Homo sapiens: one gene and its partners. The protein of the gene in region 1 interacts with the protein of each later gene in a pairwise test. Each region holds a gene or a part of one and is shown in the gene's direction. Other genes may lie near its edges. The genes, in order: EFHC2, TBC1D22B, COPE, MAPK9, NME7, PLOD3 and INPP5J.

The links.
Region 2: the proteins of EFHC2 (region 1) and TBC1D22B interact in binary tests that used the Homo sapiens proteins (3 or more experiments, as listed by UniProt).
Region 3: the proteins of EFHC2 (region 1) and COPE interact in binary tests that used the Homo sapiens proteins (3 or more experiments, as listed by UniProt).
Region 4: the proteins of EFHC2 (region 1) and MAPK9 interact in binary tests that used the Homo sapiens proteins (3 or more experiments, as listed by UniProt).
Region 5: the proteins of EFHC2 (region 1) and NME7 interact in binary tests that used the Homo sapiens proteins (3 or more experiments, as listed by UniProt).
Region 6: the proteins of EFHC2 (region 1) and PLOD3 interact in binary tests that used the Homo sapiens proteins (3 or more experiments, as listed by UniProt).
Region 7: the proteins of EFHC2 (region 1) and INPP5J interact in binary tests that used the Homo sapiens proteins (3 or more experiments, as listed by UniProt).

The regions. Positions count from the first base shown.
Region 1 is NC_000023.11:44,147,372-44,149,522, reverse strand, and holds the end of EFHC2 (EF-hand domain-containing family member C2), read left to right. Parts: intron 1-626; coding exon 627-728; 3' UTR 729-1,651; downstream 1,652-2,151. UniProt on the Homo sapiens protein: Microtubule inner protein (MIP) part of the dynein-decorated doublet microtubules (DMTs) in cilia axoneme, which is required for motile cilia beating.
Region 2 is NC_000006.12:37,278,272-37,281,771, forward strand, and holds part of TBC1D22B (TBC1 domain family member 22B), read left to right. Parts: intron 1-1,032; coding exon 1,033-1,340; intron 1,341-3,500. UniProt on the Homo sapiens protein: May act as a GTPase-activating protein for Rab family protein(s).
Region 3 is NC_000019.10:18,905,888-18,909,387, reverse strand, and holds part of COPE (coatomer subunit epsilon), read left to right. Parts: intron 1-2,275; coding exon 2,276-2,428; intron 2,429-3,452; coding exon of another isoform or gene 3,453-3,500. UniProt on the Homo sapiens protein: The coatomer is a cytosolic protein complex that binds to dilysine motifs and reversibly associates with Golgi non-clathrin-coated vesicles, which further mediate biosynthetic protein transport from the ER, via the Golgi up to the trans Golgi network.
Region 4 is NC_000005.10:180,250,584-180,254,083, reverse strand, and holds part of MAPK9 (mitogen-activated protein kinase 9), read left to right. Parts: intron 1-3,500. UniProt on the Homo sapiens protein: Serine/threonine-protein kinase involved in various processes such as cell proliferation, differentiation, migration, transformation and programmed cell death.
Region 5 is NC_000001.11:169,357,798-169,361,297, reverse strand, and holds part of NME7 (nucleoside diphosphate kinase homolog 7), read left to right. Parts: intron 1-3,500. UniProt on the Homo sapiens protein: Possesses an intrinsic kinase activity. Displays 3'-5' exonuclease activity with a preference for single-stranded DNA. Does not seem to have nucleoside diphosphate kinase activity.
Region 6 is NC_000007.14:101,211,082-101,214,581, reverse strand, and holds part of PLOD3 (multifunctional procollagen lysine hydroxylase and glycosyltransferase LH3 precursor), read left to right. Parts: intron 1-1,377; coding exon 1,378-1,475; intron 1,476-1,638; coding exon 1,639-1,740; intron 1,741-1,926; coding exon 1,927-2,052; intron 2,053-2,207; coding exon 2,208-2,329; intron 2,330-2,631; coding exon 2,632-2,736; intron 2,737-2,865; coding exon 2,866-2,991; intron 2,992-3,500. UniProt on the Homo sapiens protein: Multifunctional enzyme that catalyzes a series of essential post-translational modifications on Lys residues in procollagen. Plays a redundant role in catalyzing the formation of hydroxylysine residues in -Xaa-Lys-Gly- sequences in collagens.
Region 7 is NC_000022.11:31,121,544-31,125,765, forward strand, and holds the start of INPP5J (phosphatidylinositol 4,5-bisphosphate 5-phosphatase A), read left to right. Parts: upstream 1-1,422; 5' UTR 1,423-1,471; coding exon 1,472-1,576; intron 1,577-2,352; exon of another isoform or gene 2,353-2,462; intron 2,463-2,598; exon of another isoform or gene 2,599-2,720; intron 2,721-3,301; coding exon 3,302-4,222. UniProt on the Homo sapiens protein: Inositol 5-phosphatase, which converts inositol 1,4,5-trisphosphate to inositol 1,4-bisphosphate.

The DNA.
Region 1 (2,151 bases):
ATAAAATAAAAATAAAAATTGGGTTCTTAAGAAAGTATAGGAGGATCTATCAGCGTATTCATGCTGCATAACAACTCCTTAAATTTCAATGGTTCACAACAAGACACATTTCTTTTTCTTGTCTATGGGCATGTAGGTCAGTGAAGCATGGCTGGATTCAGCTAAGCTTGGCTCTTAGTCCGCAAGTCCAGCCTGGTCTGATCCACCTTGGTCATTCTAAGAACAGCAGCATCCTGGGCCATGTTCTTTTCATGGTGATGGCAGAGGCACAGAAGGCCAAGCCAAATGATGCCAGCACGCTAGAGCCTCTGTCCATGATATGTCTGCTAATAGTACATAGGTCAAAGCCAGTCATGTGGCCAACCCCATATCAAAGGAACAGGAAAATATACCCTTCTTACTCCACAGGAGGTTCTACAGAGTCATATGACAAAGAGTGTGGGCACATAATTCTTATACAGGGAGGGAATGAAGAATCAAGAACAAGTATCCAGTAGACCACAAAGTCCTTATGAACCTAAAGTAGATGGTAGAAATTTTCACTTTGCAAATAAACTGGTGTTGAATTTTCAAAACTGTACTTTGAAATGTGGTTCTAATCATATCCATTTTTGGTTTTTTTCTAGAGATGTGAAGATGTTTGGCTTGGTATGCCATCACCTATTCCTGCGAAATACATTGACTACTGGACCTTTTTGAAGGACGCGTTTGGCTTAGAGGAGGAATAACCATGCCAGTTTTGGTCAATTCTCTATGATTTACTTCTCTCATTTTGCCACATTTACTTTAGTAGATATAATTTCATTAAAAACAAAAAAGAAACAAGGTTTATATTAAATGGAAATCCATAAACCACAATTAATCCTATTTTGTCATGTTAGTTTTACAGAACATCATGTTACATTGCCGACGTACTGTTACTATTTAAAATGCCATCTTAAAACATGTTGAATATTTTTATTATATGTATGGTTTATTAATACCAAAAAATCTTCTGATAATTTTTGATCCAACATAATTTGATTCATTACTATATGAACAGAAAATGACTTTTGAAGGTTATACATGACAATACAAAATCAAATTATATCACAGCAATAAGTTGTGATTCTATTAAACATTTTTGAAACCTTTTTGACACGTTTATTACTTACATAATTAAGTTTTGTAGCAACCCACCTCATCAAAATAATTCTTAAACCTCTCTAGAGTAAATATATTTATCTTTTGAACTTAGTAAAGCTATGGGAAGAAAAAGAACCTCCAACACACACACACACACACACACACACGCACGTGCACACACACTGGAAACATATGCAGTATTTATATTTGTAATGCCCTTTTTTCTATCTAAAGTCAGCTTGTTAGCTTAGGAATATATGCATGTGTGTATAATTATAGTTTGACCAAAACTTTATTATGTCTAAAATATTTACAAATGTGAAAGCTGAAGATTTTGAGATTTTTGTTTTTTTTTTGGTTTGTTTTACACACACATCCCACGCGCCCCACCCTAGAGGTTTAAATATTCAGAAACTACAACATTTTTCCCCTGCATTTTTCTAGTTCTATTTTTATTTTTCTTCAGCAGAACTCTTGTCATGTAGTGTACATTTGATTAAAACCCATAGCCATGTACCTCTGGGAATTCAGTGTAAGAAGTCTATCCCAGTCTATGCCATTGTTCAGTGTTGGATGCTATGTATCATAAATCCATTTGCCTGGTGTTCTGGGAGACAATGGAGGTCTCAAAAAGGAGCTGCACCATTTACCTTTCAGGGACTACCCTGAGAAAAAGAAGAGCTGATGACATCTCAAGGGACCCTTCGGACTCATTATTCTTTCACTCCACATTTGCAGCAGTGTCTTGCTGGCTTCTTGGCACTCAAATGTACCAATTTATTCTCCACAACAATGGCCCTTTCATTTTTAAAAAATTGGAGTTAATCAATAAACGATTTCTATATGTAAGCCTAGGATAATTCCACATGTGCTATTGTTAGAATAGACGCTCCTCCCAACCCTTTCAGGACTTAACACTAAACTAGTATACTCAATTTATATACTAAAACTATCTACCATAAATCCTAAATTTGACTACTTGATTTTTGTCCCAGGTTTTTTTTAAGGCAACTGACAGTGCCAAGC
Region 2 (3,500 bases), on another chromosome or scaffold:
ACAGAGTAGCACCAAACTTCAACTTTCTTCTCAAGGCCAGCAGAAGAACTTTTAACAGAATAAAAAATGGAACAACTTTTTTATTTTGGGACTTAATGTTTAATGCTACATATGTGGACTACCTAAAATTATCTTGTTTTCTGCCAGTAGTTTATGTGCTGCTCTAAGTGATAGCAGATCAACTGTCAAATCTCTGTGGATTAACATAGTAAAGGTTTATTTCCTGCTCATGCTACATGTCTAAAATGGGGGTGGGGTAAGGGCAGAGGGCAGGCTCCTCGACATAGTTACTGCTGCTCCACATAGCCACTCAGTTACCTAGGCTGAAGGAGGTTCTACCATCTTGCCAGTGCATCATGATAGAAGAAAAGCTATGGATCAGGCATGGTGGCTCACACCTGTAACCCCAACGATTTGGGAGGCCGAGGTGGGAGGATCACTTGAACCCAGGAGTTCAAGACCAGCCTGGGCAACATAGTGAAACCTTGTGTCTACAAAAAATAATAATAAAATTAGCCAGGCATCGTGGTGTACACCTGTAGTCCCAGCTACTCAAGAGGCTGTGGTGGGAGGATCACTTGAGCCCAGGAGGTCAAGGCTGCAGAGAGCCATGATCATACCACTGCACTCCAGCCTAGGTGACAGAAACTCTGTCTCAAAAAAAAAAAAGAGAGAGGTTATACAGAACTGACACCTATTCTCTACTTTGCCTGGAAGTAATCGCCTCATTTCTCCTCAGTCCATTGGCCGGTATTGGTCATATGGCCTCACCTAAGTGTATGGGGGCCAGGAAGTATACAAGAGCACATGGGATATTTGGTGACCATTGCTGTCTCTGCTACATCTGTCTCTGCGATCTCAGGCTGGTCTGGATGTATCTAGATGAAGAATGGATGTGGGCAATTTTTGTTTGAAGAAGCTAATGATTATGTATGTGGTAGTTTGTAATTTATTAATATTACAATAATAAGCAAATGTAGGTGGTCAGATGTGTCAGGCCATTCCTTGGTAATCGTGTCTCCTTTCTTGAAGTTTCATTAAAGAACGATCAAAAGTCAACACAGTTCCTCTGAAGAATAAGAAGGCCTCCAGTTTTCATGAGTTTGCACGGAATACCAGTGATGCTTGGGACATTGGCGATGATGAGGAAGAGGACTTTTCCTCACCTTCTTTCCAAACTCTGAACTCAAAAGTTGCTTTGGCAACTGCAGCCCAAGTTCTAGAAAACCACAGCAAGCTGAGAGTAAAACCAGAACGGTCCCAGTCAACGACATCGGACGTCCCTGCCAACTACAAGGTCATAAAGTCCAGCAGTGATGCCCAGCTGTCCAGAAACTCTAGTAAGTCCTTCCTGCTCCCTTCATAGCCTCAGCCTTCTCAGCAGCGTGCATTTTAAATAAAAGCGATTTTTCTTTGGGGCCTCACTCAGGTAGATATTCAACTGGGCGGTAAATAAACTCAAGCCTGAGATGTGACATCATTAAGCCTGAGTGGTCACAAGCTATACTTGCCCCTCCCACAGTGGTGGCTGCCCAGTCTGGTGACCTGGGCCTTCACTCTCTGACACCCAGGTGTTGTTTGCCATTCTCCTCTTCTCTTCTTCCTTTCCCTGTGGTGGAGTCCACAACTTCTCTGGTTTGATTGCTTCACATTGCTTTAGGCCTGGTCAGGTTTAGAAATAGTAACTGATGTATTTAAAGCTGTTAGTGGCTGAATTTCACAATTGTTTGGCACTGTGGTTTGACTTTCTCAGCCCTAGGGAACAGCCACTAGCATAAGGTTGTCTTTTCCTGTTCCTGAGGGAGGGAGCAAATGTGCCTAAAGGCCCCAGGTCCCAGCTTCCTGACCATCAGGCAGGTCCCATCAGGTTGGGTGGGGTAGAAGTAGAGGCCTCTCTGTTTCTTTTCGGGAAACTGGCCACAGTAATGGTTGATGTGTTGGTGGTTTTATTAGCTTTTGGGGACTCTCAGTGTATTCCTTTAAATATTCATGGTTATGTTTAATGTTGCCCTAATGGGTTTTATAAAGTATGTTGGGAGCTGGAGAGGGAAGCTTTGTCATCGCAGTGAGAGTTAAAGCAGTGAGCTGGTACAGGATGAAAAGGAAGTAGAAGAACATCAGAGCCCTGGAGTGTACCCTGGCTCATGTTCTGAGGGAACTTTTTCGTGGCTGTAAGGTCTTTGCAATCATTGCACAGTTATTTTCCATCACTGATTTGGGCTCTAGCATGAACCTTCAGTGCCATGCACAGATAGGCATTCAGTGTTACTGGACCAGGTGGCCACAGCTGCAGGCCGTGGAAGGTGTCTACACACTGTGATGGAGGGTCTCCAGAGGTTTCCAGTGTGAGGAAGGCCCCTACCGTGATCCATGATGAGCTGCCCTGTGCAGCCAGGACCTCCCCCGCCCAGCCCAGAGCATTCTCCCTGAGGAGGTTTTCTCCTGCCGGCATCTGTCTGTAAATAGGTAATATGAGATTTACCTCTGTCTCAGCTTTGCAGTGTGTGTCTGCATTTTCTAGTCCCCTTGTTACACTAGGCGTCCCAGCCAACTGCCTCATGGAAGTTGTTTTTGTAAACCTTCTAGTAGTGCTGGTTGGTTGATAGTCACTGCATCTGTCTGTAAATAGGTAATATGAAATTTACCTCTGTCTCAGCTTTGCAGTGTGTGTCTGCATTTTCTAGTCCCCTCGTTACACTAGGCATCCCAGCCAACTGCCTCGTGGAAGTTGTTTTTGTAAACCTTCTAGTAGTGCTGGTTGGTTGATAGTCACTGTTTAATTTTTGTTGTGACTACTACTTTTTAAGGCCCAGCCGTGTAAAGAATATGAAACAGTCATGTAAGCACAGCTAGAATTAAAAACTGAGTTTTGCTTGTGGTAATACAAGAGTTTTAGAGTCAGGCTTACCTAAGGTGGTTTTTCACTTCTCACTTGCAAGTTATTTAACCTCCCTGAGCTGCAGTTTCTTGTCTGTAAAATAGTTATACATTCCTACCATATGTTCTAAGGATCAAATGAGAGATCATATGTAAAAGTGACCTATATGCCTTATACATATGAAGCACTCAATATACGTGAGTCCTCTACTGCTTATTCCCCCTACCCACTATCTAGTGTAGAAATGTCAAGAACAAGACAGAGTTCAGTTTGAGTCTTTGTTTGTTATTTCAGTCATATCTTGGCAGAATTAAGAACTGGTTGATTTTGGTGGGAAATGTAGGAGCACAAAGGAACCGCAGCCACCAAAGGCAGGATTGCCTTAGGCCAGAGCTTCTCACCATTGTGCAGGGCACACTGGTGGGCCAAGAACCGGGTACAGGATGTGCGGGGATATTGATCCTTTTAGTCCTTGGAGCAGCTGGGGGTTCTGGGGCTTGTGGAGAGCAACCACCTCCATTTATTGCAGCCTTGTGCTTTGTGGTGTCATCTGCAGTGTCATCATTCCTTATGTGCTCTGTGGTGTGGAATGGGAAGGAAAACACTGCCTTAGACTAAACTA
Region 3 (3,500 bases), on another chromosome or scaffold:
CTCCAGCTGGAGCCAGCCCTGCCGCCACCTTGACTTCAGACTTACGGCCTCCAGAGCTGTGAGGAACGAATCCCTGTTGTCCTTAACTGCCCGGGCTGTGGTGCTTTGCCACAGCAGCTCCAGGACATTGAGACAGGTGACCTCCCAGGGCCACTGTTTCTCCCACCCTGCACTTACTTCACCAGCTGGAGTGAAGGCAGGGAACCCTGGGTCCCCCAGGAGCAGCAGCTGCTGTGAGCATCACAGAAAAGCAGCCCCGGAGAGCAGGCGGTCCAGGCAGGGGCTTGTGGTCCGTTCATCTGGCTGCACAGCCGCGACCTCATTGGCAGGACGCCCCGGGGACAAGGAGCATCCATTAGTAATTGGTTTTGGTTTTGATTTTGTTTTCTTGAGATACGGTCTTGCTCTGTCGTTCAGCCTGGCATACAGTGGCACAATCTTGGCTTACTGCAGCCTTGATCTCCCAGGCTCAAGTGATCATCCCACCTCAGCCTCCCGAATAGCTGGGACTACAGGCACGCATCACCATGCCTGGCTAATTTGTATATTTTTTAGAGATGGGGTTTTGCCTGGCCGGGCGCAGTGGCTCACACCTGTAATCCCAGCACTTTGGGAGGCCGAGGCGGGCGGATCACGAGGTCAGGAGATGGAGACCATCCTGGCTAACACGTGAAACCCCATCTCTACTAAAAATACAAAAAAAATTAGCCGGGCATGGTGGCGGGTGCCTGTAGTCCCAGCTACTCGGGAGGCTGAGGCGGGAGAATGGCATGAACCCGGGAGGCGGAGCTTGCAGTGAGCCAAGATCGCACCACTGCACTCCAGCCTGGGCGAAAGTGCGAGACTCCGTCTCAAAAAAAAAAAAAGAGAGATGGGGTTTTGCCATGTTGCCCAGGCTGGTCTCAAACTCCTGGGCTCAAGCGATCCGCCCAGTAATTGATTTTGTTGCTGTTGCTTGTTTTTGAGATGGTCTCCCTCTGTCACCCAGGCTGGAGTGCAGAGGTGTGACCACAGCTCACCGCAGCTTCAACCTCCCGGGCTGAAGCCATCCTCCTGCCTCAGCCTCCCAAGTAGTTGGGACTACAGGCGCCACCAGGCCCAGCTGACTTTCTTACTTTTTTGTAGAAAAAGGGGTCCTACTATGTTGCCCAGGGTGGTCTTGAACTCCTGGGCTTAAGCGATCCTGCCTTGGCCTCCCAAAGCGCTGGGGTTACAGGTGTGAGCCACAGTACCCGGCCCCATTGGTAATTGTAACACCTTAGGATGACAACATTACAGTACCAACGCTACGACAACTGGCAGTGTTTATACACCCTTGTGTGCTGGAGCCTCAGGAAGCTTTGTAAGATGGTCTTGGGAGCTCCTTGCTCCTCCCCTGCATGATCCCTGTAACATGGTCCCTCAGCACGGGGAAACAGACTCAGACCTGAAGTCACTTGTCTGTTGGACCTGGCACTGTGGCGAGCCCTCAGTGGAGCCTGGTTGGTATCAGACATGCCATGCCCTCAGTGACACCTCAGACACGGGCCCTGGGCAGACAGCCCCCAGATGCGCGTGGATGCTTACGGGGTCACAGAGCCACGTTTGAACCCAGAAGAACACCAGCTTTGGTCTAGGGTGGCCCCCTCACCTGCCTTCTCTTTTTAGCTGCTCAATAGCCATGGGGAATGGAGGGTCTGGGTCCAGTTAGGGACATGGAGGCATGGGTGACCTGTGCCCTCGGAGCTGAGCCGGTCCTCAGCCTTGCCTGGGCTCAAGCCTGGCCCTGGCCCGCAGCACACTGGCCATCTTCAGGGTGCAGCCAGCACCCTGGGCTCTCAGGGACTGAGGGCAGCTGCCCTGGCAGTGGGGGTGCCCCAGGGCTCCCATCCTTCTGCACGGCCCCTCGGCACCCAGGCCGACCTCCTGCTAGAAGACGTGGCCTTGAAGCCCACAGGGTTGATGGGTTATGGTCAGGAGTCCCAGCTGGGCCCACCAGCCTCCTCAGGAAGGCGGGTGAGGTTGGTGTGAGACTGACGGTGCCTCCTCATGTCCCCTTGGAGCGCCCCACCCCACATCTCCCGGCCTCGGGTCCTTGCCTGGCCCAGCATGAGAGGTGCTTCATAGGAACGGAGGGAGGACATGTCGGGACAGCTCGATGCTCGGCCTGCTGCTGCTCTGCACCCCCAGGGCCTGGCTCACCCTCTCTGGACCTGTCTGCTTCCAAGGAAGGGGACCCTCTGAGGTCCCACAGAGGCCACCCCAGCTGTGGGTCGTGAGCATCTCTGTCTTGCAGGGACAGCATCGTGGCCGAGCTGGACCGAGAGATGAGCAGGAGCGTGGACGTGACCAACACCACCTTCCTGCTCATGGCCGCCTCCATCTATCTCCACGACCAGAACCCGGATGCCGCCCTGCGTGCGCTGCACCAGGGGGACAGCCTGGAGTGGTGAGTGGCCTCCCTGCTCTGGGGCCAGCCCAGGGAGGCAAGTGCCCCCTGCCACATCTCCAGGCTGCGCACGGCCTCGCTGGCTGTCGTCATGGGAGCAGAGAAAGGTGGTGCTGAAATGAGGCCCTGGCCTGCTGTCCAGGCTCCAGCTCCCCTGCCCAGTGTGGGAGGCACTCCCATCTGCGCACCAGGCTGCAGATCCAAGGACACGGTGCCCAGGCTGCAACCCTCTGTTCCCAAGGGCAGAGCAGAAAGCGGCTTTGTCTCTGCTCGGTTTCTGTGTCCCCACCCCCCACGAAGCCTTCTGTGTCTCGGCCCTGGGCCCAGTCTCTCAGGCCTCCCCGGGCCCCCCATACCGGCCCTCCTCCAGGGCCCTCTGGGGTTGGGGTGCTGAAGCCCTGCAAGGTTGGTGCCCCCCTCCACCCTAGGATGTGACTCCGGGCCATGTCCAGGGCACTGGTCACAGAAAGTGTGTCAGTTCTTCCCCGTGAGCTGTCCCTGCAGTGCCTGCCTTCCACTGTGAGTTGCAAGCTGGGCATTTCATGGTCGCTGTGGATCTGCTCCCATCCCACCTCCATCCACAGAGGGCTTAGAATTGCAGGGCGAGCCAGGCATGGTGACATGCACCTATGTTTCCAGCTACTTGGGAGGCGGAAGCAGGAGTATCCCTTGAGTCTGGGAGGTGGAGGCTGCAGTGAGCCGTGATGGTGCCACTGCACTCCAGCCTGGGTGGCAGAGCCAGACCCTGACTCACACACAAAAAAGAAAATAAATAGGGATGTCACACTGTCGGCGAGCCGGCCGACTCGGTGCTGGTCCAGGTGCTGGCTCCTGTTGGCAGGAAAACAAGAACAAGAGGCCTCACGAGTAATTCGTGGTCACAGCCACCTGGGGCTGAGAGGGATGAGGGGACGAGGGGGCCTGCAGAGAGTGGGTGGCCCCAGGGCTCTGCTGCAGGTGCAGGTGCAGGGGCGGGTGCGTGGCCCTCCTCTAGGGCCTTGTTCCTGAGTGTTGATGCCTCCAGGGTGTCGAGTCCGGGCAGGGCCCTCCATCTGGAAGCACAGCCCATGGA
Region 4 (3,500 bases), on another chromosome or scaffold:
GAGGCAGGAGAATTTCTTGAACCCAGGAAGCGGAGGTTGCAGTGAGCTGAGATAGTGCCATTGCACTCCAGCCTGAGCAACAAGATCGAGACTTCGTCTCAAAAAAAAAAAAAAAAAAAAGAGATTGAAGCATTAAAGGCTGACTGGAAGTACTGAGTGAATGGGTAAATTGTTAAAGAATGGGTGTCTCTTGGACCACAGGCAGCCACAGGTGTCACCTTCTGTAGGTTTTTTCTCTGGGCACCATTTAATTTCTCTGGAAAAGGCCCCTTCAGTCCCTTGGTGGAGGGATGTAAGCCTGGCTGCTGGGGTACAGGGCTGTGCTTCTCATGTGGCAGAGCGCAAACTCACCAGGCAGCCCTGTTGCAGGCAGGCCTCACCGTGCCTTCCCTGTTGGTACCCACAGGACTGTGCATGCGGCGCCTGTGGCCCTGCACCTGGAAGCTGGGCATCAGTTTCTCTGCGTGAAGGGCCAGCAGGAGTGAGGAAGGAGTGGAGCCTCACTTCTGGGATGGAGATGGGGATCTGGGACATCTACTACGTACTTGGACTTTCAATAAAATGAAAACTTCTCCAAGTGCTACCCTTGCCTCTTCTGCCTCCATAGCACCTGCATTTCACTTGCTGAGCCTTTCCTGGGTGTCGTGGCCATTTATAGAGGTTGGCATTTCCTTCGCTCAGCTAGGGCATTTGGGCGGCCCTGCAGCTTCCTGTCCCTGTAGCGTGGGGCTTTTCGTGGGCGGCTTCCGCATGCCACGGTGGGTTAGACAGGCGAGGGACTGGCCGGGAGGAGGCCTGTGCGAGAAGGAAGGGGGAGCAGCCAGAGGAGGCAGCAAATGCTAGCTGAACGTAGTGCAGTCCTGGCCCCTCAGAGGCCTGGTCCAGACTGCGGTGCAGCTCTGAGGGCCTCCGGTGTCACACAGGAACGGGCCTGCCTCAGCATCCCTGCCCGGTCGGCCCCTGGCTGACGGCTCTGTGGGAGGTGTGCCCTGGCAGGGACAGAGGGTAGGTGCAGACACCACACTGGGCCATCTGTCACTCTCACTCCTGTGGCGGGAGACCAAGGAGTGCATTTCCGTGGACCCCACAGTCCACCCTGGCCCCCTCAGCTCTACTTCTCCACATAAGTTGGGAATGGCTTTCCTGTGGCGCCCATGGTTCTCTCTTCCTCAGGGGAAATCTGGAAGACAGAGGTTAGTGGGACACCCTGTAGTCCCTGTCACTGTGGTCTCTCTGCTGGCTCTTTCCCTACCCTTTCCTGTTATTCATACCCTCAGCTCTCACATTGGCAGGCCTCTGTGGCTTGCCTGGCCTGTGTCCCAGGCCTTCATTCCTGAGCCGTCTGTGTCTGGTGGCTCTCAGTGGGCCACAGGGTCCCAGGCCACCCAGTGGCCGTCTCCCCAGTCCTCAGTGTGTAGCCGGAGCGGAGGCGCTTGGCAGGTGGAGTAACGCCCACACGAGTTCCTTGGCCTGTGAGTAAGAGTCGTCACAGTGGGAAGGCCAAATGGAAACCTGAAACTGCCCCCAAGATAGTAAATCAAAAACAAGATCACACCCTGCAGGGCCCGGGGTGGGTGGAGGAGACTAGGGCCACCATGGAAGCCTCAGGGGAGCAGAGACAGTGGTATCTTGCATCCCAGTCTAACTCGTTAGTCCAGCCCTTGAAGAAGCTGCATGGATTCTGGAGAATGACCCCAGACGGCCACAGGCTTACGGCACTGGCAGTCCTGGCCGCAGCTGCTGTGCATGTCAAGGTGCAGTTGTTGCTGGAGCAGATTAATAAGGCCTCAGGTCTGGCATGTTGATGGGGCAAATGCATCCTCCACACTGATTAGAAGAGAGGCCCAGACAGCGCCCACACTGCTGCAGGCTGGACAGCAATGTTCTCTCACAGCCTTGCTCTAAGCCTTTGCTAACGTTCCCACCCTCCCATAACATGGCCGCAAGAGACCTGGCCCAGACTTCACTTATGCCCTGACCCCTGACCCCTGACCCCACGAACCCTGCAAGTGGAGGAGCCCTGAGAGTGTTTGGGGTCTTCGGGTTTCAGTGTCTACTTAGAGCTGTGTCCATTCATCCTCAAGAGTGCCTGGCTGTTCTTACCCGGTGGGTGGCCACAGGTACCTGTGGGGAAGGACCGGCAAGGCCAGACAGTGGACACCTGTCATGATGTGCTCCTTCCTGGGATACCTCTCAAGCAGTGGGTCTGGATCCCAGAGTTGAGCGGGCAGTGGGGGAGGTCAGCACCTGCCCCACTCATGCTGCGGGTGCTGTGGGTACCCTCACTGCTGCCCACAGGGTAGCGTTGGGTTCCAGGCATTTTGGGAGCCAAGCCCCGATCCAGGCGTCACTTGGATCTGTACTTGGCATTTGTCTTCTTTGTTCTGAGTGATTTTCAAGACTTGAAGGGGCAGAACTGTCTTTCCTCTGCTGTCTTGAAATTGAAGTGAGGTGTTGGGAAGCTGCCTCAGGTTGTATTTCGGGGGTGACTAGAGAGGGTCCCAGGGTGCGGGGAGAGCACCTCCTTAGCCACCTCCCCATTGGCCACACAGAGCACCCACACAAGCTTGGGACTTTATCACCACAGTCTTCCAGCAGACGGCAGTAAAGTGTGCTTTTCCTGTTAAATTAGTATGTGATGACAGTTTTTTGACAGATGGCAGTGTCTTCAGATGAGCGTGTTTCTGGCGCACTGGGGTTCACAGAGCTGGCAGGCAGCCCGTGGAGATGGTTCCACTGCTGCGTCTGTCCTTGGTAGAACCAGGCTGTCCTTGTCTTCCTTGCTCCTGCGGCCGTGCTGTTAGTTCTGGGTGGGCTGGGCTTCAGGGCCTGCTGGCTGGGGAAGTGTGTGCATTTCACACCTCAGAAATCAGCCTCCTGGAGAGAAAGTGCCCACTGCACACCCTCTGTGGCCTGAGGAAGCGCCTGTTTCTGCTTCTCCCGCCAGCACCGAGTCTGCTTGCTTTCCATCGCTGCCAAGTGATAGACTAAAAATGGGCATTCATTTTGGGTTTTTAAAGAAGATTTTTGTGAGATTGAGCATTATTTTATCTGTTAGTAATTTATGTTCTAAAATGCCTGTTCTTGTCATACTCTTTGATTTTAAAAAAGGAAACAAGAAGCGAATTCGTTCATTTGGTCTTAGCTCCCTGACTTGGTCCTCACAGCGGAGCGTCCCTGGTTGAATGTGGGCTGCTTCTCCCTGGCTTTCCTTCATGCAGGGAGGCAGCCCGGTTTCTTCCTCTCAGGCCTTTCTGGGAACCGGGGGTGTCTGCACAGTACTCTAAGGTGGAATGGAGGGGCTGGGGGCCTCTTTTTGGGGCCAGGTAGAGATTGTGACTGCATTTTTAAACATTATATGTTTATCATTTAAATCTTACAGAATCTAGGAAGCCTAGAAACAGGTCACTTAGCAGCATGGCAGTGTAATTGTACCTGTTGTCAATGTCGAAATGGCTTCCTGCTTGCCCTGATGACAGCCCCACAGCCTTCACTGAGGC
Region 5 (3,500 bases), on another chromosome or scaffold:
TCTTGTTTAGTAGGAAACAGTGGTATTTGGAGAACGGAATAGTAAGTGGTTAATATAATGCCATAATTTTTTTCATGTAGCTTTTTATTTATTTTTGCTTTCCTTTTTCTGCCTTTTTATTCCCAATTCTTTCTCATTCACCAGTTATTCTTCTATTCGAGAAAGTATTTATTGAGTACTTTCCATATACTGGTAACTGGTGGGTATACATTGATTAATAAGATAGCACACAGTGGCCCCTAACTCATGGAATTTATGGAGAAAAACAGATATTGGAAAATAAATTACAAGTATAAGTTGGATTACAAAAGAAAAATGACAAGGTGAGGTGGAAGTTAGTAATAAAATAGAGTGATCTGAACTAGCCTGGGGTGGTGAGGGAAAGTCTCTTTGATGATAAAACTCTTTAATTGTTTTTTTCCTTAGTTTGAGAGAAAAACAGTTTACATGAATAAATAAACGAATGATGACCTCATATGATGATAAGTACTATGAGGAAAATTAAACTAAGTAATGCAATATTGGTTGGTTCCAAGAGCAAGTAGCCTTGAGTAGGACAATCAGGGACGGTCCTCATGAGGATGTGACTTTTAAGCTGAGATGTCAATGATAGAAAGCAGCTTGCCAGGTGAAACCTAGGAGAAGAGCATTCCAGGCAGAGTCAATAGTGAGCACAGAGGTGCATTAGAGGAACAGGAGGGAGATAGTGTGGCTGGGGCCTAGGGAATGAGAGGACAGCTGGAGGAGAAGAGATCTGAGAGGCAGGAAGGAGCCAGGAATACTGAGACTTATGGAACTTGGGAGGGATTTTGGATTTTATTCTAAATGCAGTAGTATTATACATCTTATATATTTTACCTATTCCATCAAAATATTTTATTTTCCTTGGATTTGCCTTAAACTTTTGCCATATTAATTTGGTCTCTTGGTGCTTATTTTTATCTTATCTGTAAAATTTATGATCTTATAAGCTTTGGGAAATATTTTTCTGAGCTTCTTTTGTCTTTGAACTTCAGAGACTCCTAATTTCATCCCTTATAGTTGCCATTTCATAATTTATTTTCCCATTTCTGGACTTATTTTTTGTTTCTATAATATCTACTCTAAGGTGTGGCGAGCAGAGCTACATATTCCAGATGGGTATGCATTATAGTTTCAACATGGGAGTTATGTTTGCTGCTGTGATCTTCACCTAGTACCTTTCTTGATGCTGCTATAGCATATGATTGAAGTATCTTACTTTCCAGAAGTATCTCCAGCATTCCCAATGAACTTTGTATTCACATTTTTTTCAAAAACTGCCTAAACTTCTTCACTTCCAAAGTTGTCAATATTTAAAACTTTCTGTTAATTAGATGTGAGAAACTGTAGCTATTAAAATGTACTGCTTAATTCACATTTATTTTCTGATACTGGACACTTTGCCTTAATAAGTTGCTGTTGTTCTCTCTCCTGACTCATCTTATGTGCTGTGCCTTCTTCATATTTCTATACTCTTTAAAATGTATCTTCATATGCACACATAATGGCTCTAGAGCTCTCTGATAGATGTAAATTCAACTTTTATCCTTTGTTTTCCATAGTTTCAATATTTACATGATACATATATATGCTATATATGTTTTATATATGTTTATAAAGATATTTAACTTATTCTGTTGTAGAAATATAGGAAAATTACTTAGTCATTTTTAGAAATGAGAAAATATAAAAGTAAAAGTAATAAAATTACATTTATCTATAATAACACTGCCTGTATACAATCGCTATTAATATTTTTGTGTAATATCCTGGTCACATATATACTCATACATATATACACACACACACAGAGATACATATCCTTTAAAATATGATTCTATTATATTCATTGTTTAGAAATCTGTTTTATCCCACTTAATATATCTTTTGCATTTTTCCAGATCAGTTTTAAGAACTACAGCCAGCCCTGGGTAGCCATGGGTTCTGCATCCAGATTCAACCAATTGAGGATTGAAAATATTTGAAAAAAAAAAATAACAATACAATGATAAAAAATACAAATAAAAACAAAGCACTATAACAAGTATTTACATAGCATTTGCATTGTATTACGTGTTGTAAGTAATTTAGAGATGAATTAAAATATACTGGAGGATATGCATAGGTTATATGCAAATGCTATATCATTGTATGTAAGGGACTTGAGCGTCTAAGGATTCTGGTATCTGTAGGAGTCCTGGAACCAATCCCCTGCAAATACTGAGGGACAGCTCTACGTTTTATTCTTTCATTTACTCTGATTTAACCAATCCATTTATTAATTTGTTCTGTTAACACAATACTAACATATTTTTGCGAACACATTTTTATAGACATCCATAATTATTTCCTTACAATAAATTAAAAAGGAAATAACTAGGTGCGAGAGGTCATGTGCATTTTTAGGCTTTCAATATACATTGCCAGACTACTCCCAAAATAGTTTTGCCAGTGAATACTCTGCTAGCAGTATACCATGGTGCCTGTTTCTTCTAAACTCTAAACTGGTATTTCTATACATTACATACATATGTCTAACAATAGATTTGAACTTTTAATAAAACTGTCACCTGCTTTGCTCAGAATATTGAGAGAAATATAAATTACTGTATGTTCTATAGATGAAAGGCACTGTTAATACTTACCTACAATATTTCTTTGTAATTATTGTTTTACATCTATTATAAATTGTTAAAATTCAAGGTTTATTGTCTGACTGTAGTGAAGAATATTAAGTTGGCCTTTTTTTAACTATTATTTGTAGACAGATTTTCCAGTCCTCTCTTGTGTACTTATTTTCAAGATGTAGCTTGTTGAAGTACAAACAAACTGATGTAGAGCTAGAAATCTAAAATTTCAGTCTTTATTCCAGTCCTGGCTTAAGCACTTATGAGCTGTGTGTTATGTAATCTTTTTGGATAGTTATTTTCTCATCCATAAAATCAAAATAATACTTTCTGTTTAGATTACCTTAAAGCATTTTTTGTGAAGATCAAATAAGTTAATATGAAAGTAATTTATAAACTGTAATATACATATGAAATGTGTTATTTTCATATTAACCAGATTGCTGCCTAATGAGAAGATAGTTGAGGAAAATGGAAGAGATTAAAATATCAACCTTCAAAAATAAATATTTGAGGTTAATGGTGTTATGCAATTTTGTGGCTATTGAAAAATTTACTTTTATATATTAAATTCCCTCTTCCTAAATTTCTCTTATAGATTCATTTTCCTAATGGAAATAAGAAAAAGCTGGTAAAAGGGAGGGAAATGGCAGAGATTGGTCTTGAGACCAGTTTCAATAATGGTCATATACTTTTGTGGATAGGGGCAGCTAAACATGTGTGATATGTATTTAGCAGGTATTAGGTGTGAGATCCCTGAATATCTACTCAATTTAAATGGATTAGCTGGGAACATTTACTTTTATTGCTGGTCATGTGAGATTTTATTATTCAGTAATTTGACTGTGAAAG
Region 6 (3,500 bases), on another chromosome or scaffold:
ACAGGCATGAGCCACTGTGCCCGGTCTACTTCTGTGATTCCATTTAACAAAGGGAAGGTCCCTGGTTATCCTTCTTGTACAGATGAGGAAAACAGCTTGTGGAGGGGTTGGTGACTTGCCTCAGGGGATGGGGAGAACGGGGAGAGAGAGAGGCCAGGCACGGTGCCTCACGCCTGTAATCCCAACATTTTGGGAGGCCCAGGCAGGAGGATCACTTGAGGTCAGGAGTTTGAGACCAGCCTGGCCAACATGGCGAAAACCCGTCTCTACTAAAAAAAAGTACAAAAATGAGCTGGGCGTGGTGGCGGGTGCCTGTAATCCCAGCTATTCAGAAGGCTGAGGCAGGAGAATCACTGGAACCCGGGAGGCAGAGCTTGCAGTGAGCCGAGATTGCGCCACTGCACTCCTGCCTGGGTGACAGAGTGAGATTCCTTCTCAAAAAAAAAAAAGGCCAGGTGCGACAGCTCACATCTGTAATCCCAGCACTTTGGAAGGCTGAGGCGGGCAGATCATGAAGTCAGAAGTTTGAGACCAGCCTGGCTGACATAGTGAAACCCAGTCTCTACTAAATATACAAAAATTAGGCTGGGTGTGGTGGCTCATGCTTGTAATCCTAGCACTTTGGGAGGCCGAGGCAGGTGGATCACCTGAGGTCAGGAGTTCAAGGCCAGCCTGGTCGACATGGTGAAACCCTGTCTCTACTAAAAACACAAAAATTAGCCGGGCATGGTGGTGCGCGCCTGTAATCCTGGCTACCCGGGAGGCTGAGGAAGGAGAATCGCTTGAACCCTGGAGGTGGAAGTTGCAATGAGCCAAGATCGTGCCACTGCACTCCAGCCTGCGTGTTGGGAGTGAGACTCCATCTCAGCATAAAAAACAAAAAATACAAATACAAAAATTAGCCAGGTGTAGTGGCATGTGCCCATAGTCTCAGCTACCTGAAAGGCTGAGGCAAGAGAATCTTTTGAACTCAGGAGGCAGAGGTTGCAGTGAGCCGAGACCACGCCATTGCACTCCAGCCTGGGTGACAGAGTGAGACTCCATCTCAAAAAATAAAAATAAAAAAAAAAAAAAACAAGGAGAGAGAGAATATGAGGAGGGGTAGGGATGCTGAGGCTCCTACTGGCCTCCCGCTCAGCTCACCCTCCCCTTCCTCGCCCAGCTGCGGTGTGATCACGCAGGTAGTAGGCAGTGGAGCTCTCTGGGCCAGCAGCCTGGTCAGAACCCAAAGGTTCCTGCCCACAACGAGCCACACTCCAGGATAGCCCTGGTGTCCCTTTATTCCCTGGAGAATTTGGGACCCCATATTTAGAAGAATGTGTTGCTTGGTAGCTCCCAGAGAAAGGGGGTCTGAAGCCTGGCCTTTTTCTTCCCCAGATGAAGTGGTTTTAAAGTTTGATCGGAACCGTGTGCGTATCCGGAACGTGGCCTACGACACGCTCCCCATTGTGGTCCATGGAAACGGTCCCACTAAGGTGCCACCAGTGGTCTCAACCCCCGCCCCGCCCTGCCCCAACCCCCAGGCACCTCCAACCCTTCTGAGAAGCTGGCCCTTCCCAGCCCCCATATCAGAGGTGCCTGACCCCCACCTCCACCCCTGGAGGCCTCAGCCACTCAGCCTCAGTCTGTCCCCAACAGCTGCAGCTCAACTACCTGGGAAACTACGTCCCCAATGGCTGGACTCCTGAGGGAGGCTGTGGCTTCTGCAACCAGGACCGGAGGACACTCCCGGGGGGGCAGGTGAGGTGGGGGTGCCAGGGAGGGGCACGAGAGGGCAGCGTGCTGAGCAGGAGGTACAAGGACAGCGGACTGGGGGGCGGTGGGGGCATCGCTCCTGGGTCCCTGCACCTGTCAGGGTGGAGGTTGGGTGGGGGCAGCAGGGAAGTCCGGGCTTCTCTCTGAGTCCCTGCGTGTTGCATCTTCCAGCCTCCCCCCCGGGTGTTTCTGGCCGTGTTTGTGGAACAGCCTACTCCGTTTCTGCCCCGCTTCCTGCAGCGGCTGCTACTCCTGGACTATCCCCCCGACAGGGTCACCCTTTTCCTGCACAACAACGTGAGACTCCCCTGTTGGAGCCTCTCCTGAGGGACCCTTTCCCTGCCCTGATCAGAACTCTCGTGCCCCCACCCCCATCTCCTTCCTGCACCCCCATCCCTCAGGTGCCGCCTCCCTGCCCTCTGAGCCCATCCCCCTATGTCTTCCCCTCCCAGGAGGTCTTCCATGAACCCCACATCGCTGACTCCTGGCCGCAGCTCCAGGACCACTTCTCAGCTGTGAAGCTCGTGGGGCCGGAGGAGGCTCTGAGCCCAGGCGAGGCCAGGGACATGGCCATGTGAGCGGGTGCTTGCGGGGAGGAGAGGGTGGGATGAGGCTGTAGGGTCAGGGGTGCTGCCACCTGCTGCCTGGCCCTTGCCTCACCTGTCACCCATCCAGCCCCTCCTGGGCCTCCCCATTCGCATCCTTGCAGCCCCCATGCTGTCACTCCTGCCCTTGCCAGCTCACCCAGACAGCAGAGAGCCTGGGGAAGGAAGGATAGACACTGCCTCCCTCCTCTTCTCCTGGGGGCATGGGCCAGTTACCCCATCCACACCGCCTCCCCACCTGCCGCCGTCTCAGCTCGCCTCTCACCTCCAGGGACCTGTGTCGGCAGGACCCCGAGTGTGAGTTCTACTTCAGCCTGGACGCCGACGCTGTCCTCACCAACCTGCAGACCCTGCGTATCCTCATTGAGGAGAACAGGTGGCTTACCCCCTCTCCCCGCAGCCGGAGGGCACCCCAACAGGCCCCGGGAACCCCACTCCTGCCCTGGGCACCGGGCTCCCCAGGCCTGCTCCCGTCTGCCCAGCCCTCACCCCCACCTGTCCGCAGGAAGGTGATCGCCCCCATGCTGTCCCGCCACGGCAAGCTGTGGTCCAACTTCTGGGGCGCCCTGAGCCCCGATGAGTACTACGCCCGCTCCGAGGACTACGTGGAGCTGGTGCAGCGGAAGCGAGTGTGAGTCCCGCCAGCCTGCAGCCCCCCGCCTCCTCCGACCCGGGGCCCAGGTAGACCCAAGCCCCCTACTCTCAGGGGTTTGGAGTGGTCACCAGTCAGAGGTGCCATGAGGCTGGCTGCAGTGGCTCACACTTTTGATGCCACCACTTTGGGAGGCTGAGGTAGGAGGACTGCTTGAGCCTGGGAGTTTAAGATCAGCCTGAGCAACGTAGCAAGAGCCTATCTCTACAAAAAACTTAAAATATTAGCTGGGCACGGTGGTGCGTGCCTGTGGTCCCAGCTACTACGGAGGCTGAGGTGGGAGAATCACTTGAACTTGGGAGGTTGAGGCTGCAGTGAGCCATGTTTCCACCACTGCACTCCAGCCTGGAAACAGAGGGAGACCCTTTCTCAAGAAAATAAAAAACAAGGGCCGGCCGCGGTGGCTGACGCCTGTAATCCCAGCACTTTGGAAGGCAGAGGCAGGTGGATTACTCGAGGTCAGGAGTTCGAGACCAGCCTGGCCAACA
Region 7 (4,222 bases), on another chromosome or scaffold:
ATCATCACCTCTACCTTTGCCATCACCATCACCTCCACCACCTTCACCACAACCACTGCTAGCCCCCTACTTCCATCATCACAGTTACATACATCATCACATCCATCACCACAGTCGCCTTCCCCGTCACCACTGTCACCATCTCCACTATCGCTGTCCAAAGACCTTTCTACCCCAACACTCTAATATGGCCTGAGTCTCTGCCCCTGCAAATTCCAGCAGAGATGCTGGCCTGAGAATACAGACTAGACCTACTGACAGTCAAGCAGAGGTAGGAAGTGCCTTCAGGAGAGGAAAGTGAGGCATCTGCCTTCATGTAGGAGACTGCACAGGCCCATGCAGATGCTCCATGTTGGTTAACAGGGAGCTCTGCACACACAACTCTGAACACTTTCTGCCTAAAGTGGGTGGGATCACTCCTCTCTAAGCCATGAGAAACAGATCCCACAGCCATCCCAGCCCAATCTGACCCTCATCACCCATTCACTCTTCTAATTCATTTATTCATTCAACAAACACTCCCGTAGGCCTGTTGGGGACCATGTCCTGGGCTGGGTCCTGGCTGTAGCAATTCTCAGGCCTGTTTGTAACTCTCTTGTCAGTCTGTTACCCCACTGCTGGGCCCTTCTCCACCCAAGTTCCCTTCCCCCAGATAGCTCGAAGGGCTTGTGCTCATCCTAGGTCACTAAGTTTTCTCACTGAAACACAGGAGACCTTCTCAGTTCACCAGGTGACCTTGAGCAAGTTCCCCTCCCAAACCACACCCAGTGAATACTGGAGAGAAGAAAGCTGACAGAAGCCGGGCTGGGTTAGGCCTGGCTGTGGGGACATCTGAGGGCAGCTAGGTGTCTGCAGAAGAGGAGGGGCTGGTGCTGAGGCCTGAGATGGGAAAAGACTGCAGTGGCTGGAGCCTGAGTGTCTGGTTCTGGGTTGGGAAGAATAGAGCCTGGGACTGGCAGTAGGAGTGGAGAGGGTGGCACCAAGACCTGAAAATGGGGCAAGGGTGGGGGCCGGGGCAAGCTCTGAGCTGGCAGGGAGCCAGGAAGGTCACAGGATCAGGGCAAGAACTCAGTTGTCTCTGAGGCCCTGGAGAGGGTGCAGACCTCTGAACCACCTGTCCTACCTTAAGGCAGGTGTGTTAATGCCCCTCCCTGGAGCAAAGGGCTGACCAGGCCTACGGCAGAAAGGTGAAGGTAGACAGACAGCCTCCTTCCTGCTGCCAGTTGGGACCTGGGCCAGGCAGATGGGTACACTCTCCCCTCCCCACTCCATGGCTGTTCCAGCCTCAGCAGCCAGTTTGAAGGATTCCCAGGGGGTAGCCACCTTGCTTCGGCCTCTTCCAGGCTGGGAAGTGGGAGCCTGTGCCTTTAAATTCTCAGCAGGTTGAAATGGCTGATGACATCACTGGTTCCCGGGAGCGGTAGAGCTGGAGCCGGAGCCAAGGGAGTCCAGGCTGCCGGGGGCTGCAGACATGGAGGGCCAGAGCAGCAGGGGCAGCAGGAGGCCAGGGACCCGGGCTGGCCTGGGTTCCCTGCCCATGCCCCAGGGTGTTGCCCAAACTGGGGCACCCTCCAAGGTAAGACCCCTGAGACCCAGTGCCCCCCGCTTTCCTGATCCCTGGTTCCACACACCCCCCCCACATACACTGCAGGCTCCCTGGTGCTCCTGACTGAGGGGCTGGTACTTTCCTCTGCTCAGCGAGCAGGGGCTAGGTGAAGAGAGCACCCTGGGGGCTGAGGGGCAGTGACAGGATGCCCGGAGACAGATGAAGTTAGCCATCTCCAGGAGCCCTTGGGAGAGTCCTGGACTGGGTATCAGAGGACCCAGCTGTGCTCCACCTTTGCTGTGTGACCTTGGCCAAGTTGCTTTTCCTCTCTGAGCCAATGCAAAATGAGGGGGCTTGTCGCTGAAGACTAAAACTGTGACATCTGGGATGGCTAAGTTGTTAGTACTGGAGGCGGTGTGATAGTTGGGGGGAAGCCGGCACACAGTGTGACACTTGGAGCCAAGGAGGGTGCCTAAAATGCCACCTCAAAGAACTGAGTTTGAGAAGGGAGGTGGAGATGGAGTTTTAGGTACTCTGAACTGAGAAGGATACGGGACAGAAACAGAAGTGCGTCTCCAGAGGCAGGGCCTCCCTGCGCCCTGTTACCCTACCTAGGGCCATCCTGGGGCAAGTATAGACATTCTTCTGCCCTCCTTGGTGAAGGACACTTTATCCTGTCTTCTGGAGACAGGGGACATCAGAGAGAATAGATGGGGAAGGAGGATAGGTCTCTACAGGACTCCGTGACTCCCCACCCCTCCCACCTGCCGGACATAAATGGGATACCTGCTTGCCTGTCCTTTCAGGTAGGGGAGAAAGTGGAGGATGTAAGAGGGCACAACCTGGGCACAGAGAGATGTGACACCAGGATCAACTTAGAATCCTGGACTTGCTCTGAATGCTAGATTCACACTTGGTGAGGATGGACTATTCAACGGGGCTAGATGGAATTCTAGCAAATGTTGGGCTCATAAATGCAGACAATGGGAGATGAAGATTCCCCAGAATATAATGTGGCCAGGAACCCTAGACCCCATCCCTTCATTTTACAGACAGAGAAACTGAGGCGCTGGGCAGAGAGGTACTTGCCTAAGGTCACACAGAGCTGGGCTTTGAATCTACACAGCCAGTCTCAGCTCCCAGCTCTTGCTCCTGAGTGGAGCTCTGGGAATGGGTAAGAGAACAGAGAGGGCTGTAACCAAGGGATTTGGATGTTTAGGGGGCGGTGGGGAACTGAGGGTTTCTGGGCATTATGAAGGAAGGGAGAGGTATTTAACAAGCTGCACCTGTAGGTCTGTATCTTGACAATAGAAAAAGAAAAGAAACAGGCTGTCCCCAGTGTGCCCAGACCTGGGATGTCAGGTCAGTAGCCGTGGCTGGGGGAGCTTCAGGGACTGCAGTGGGAGGGTTGCCCAGGGAAGCTGCCCCGAATGGGCAGGGTGTGGGTGCCAGCCAGGAAGGCAAGGCAAGTCCTCAGGTTTAGGTTCACACTCTGCCTCATTTGAGTCAGGGTCTGAGTTTCCCCATCTGTGAAAGAGGTTTCAGACTTAAAGGAGGGGTTAGGGTTTTGTGTCCTATCTCCTCCAAGACAGAAGTTGACCTGCAGCAGAATAGATTGAAGTGAGATAGTAGGAAGAACTTCCTTGGAAAGATGTGCCTTTCTTAGCTAGATGAACTCTGCCAGGGTCTATATGGAAGTTGGGGCCCAATGCCCTGGTTAGGGTCACTCTGAATCTTTGACTTGTCCTCCACAAGGTGGACTCAAGTTTTCAGCTCCCAGCAAAGAAGAACGCAGCCCTAGGACCCTCGGAACCAAGGTTGGCTCTGGCACCTGTAGGGCCACGGGCAGCTATGTCAGCTTCCTCGGAAGGACCGAGGCTGGCTCTGGCATCTCCCCGACCAATCCTGGCTCCACTGTGTACCCCTGAAGGGCAGAAAACAGCTACTGCCCACCGCAGCTCCAGCCTGGCCCCAACATCTGTGGGCCAGCTGGTGATGTCTGCCTCAGCTGGACCAAAGCCTCCCCCAGCGACCACAGGCTCAGTTCTGGCTCCGACGTCCCTGGGGCTGGTGATGCCTGCCTCAGCAGGGCCAAGATCTCCCCCAGTCACCCTGGGGCCCAATCTGGCCCCAACCTCCAGAGACCAGAAGCAGGAGCCACCTGCCTCCGTGGGACCCAAGCCAACACTGGCAGCCTCTGGCCTGAGCCTGGCCCTGGCTTCTGAGGAGCAGCCCCCAGAACTCCCCTCCACCCCTTCCCCGGTGCCCAGTCCAGTTCTGTCTCCAACTCAGGAACAGGCCCTGGCTCCAGCATCCACGGCATCAGGCGCAGCCTCTGTGGGACAGACATCAGCTAGAAAGAGGGATGCCCCAGCCCCTAGACCTCTCCCTGCTTCTGAGGGGCATCTCCAGCCTCCAGCTCAGACATCTGGTCCTACAGGCTCCCCACCCTGCATCCAAACCTCCCCAGACCCTCGGCTCTCCCCCTCCTTCCGAGCCCGGCCTGAGGCCCTCCACAGCAGCCCTGAGGATCCTGTTTTGCCACGGCCACCCCAGACCTTGCCCTTGGATGTGGGCCAGGGTCCTTCAGAGCCTGGCACTCACTCCCCTGGACTTCTGTCCCCCACCTTCCGGCCTGGGGCCCCCTCAGGCCAGACTGTGCCCCCACCTCTGCCC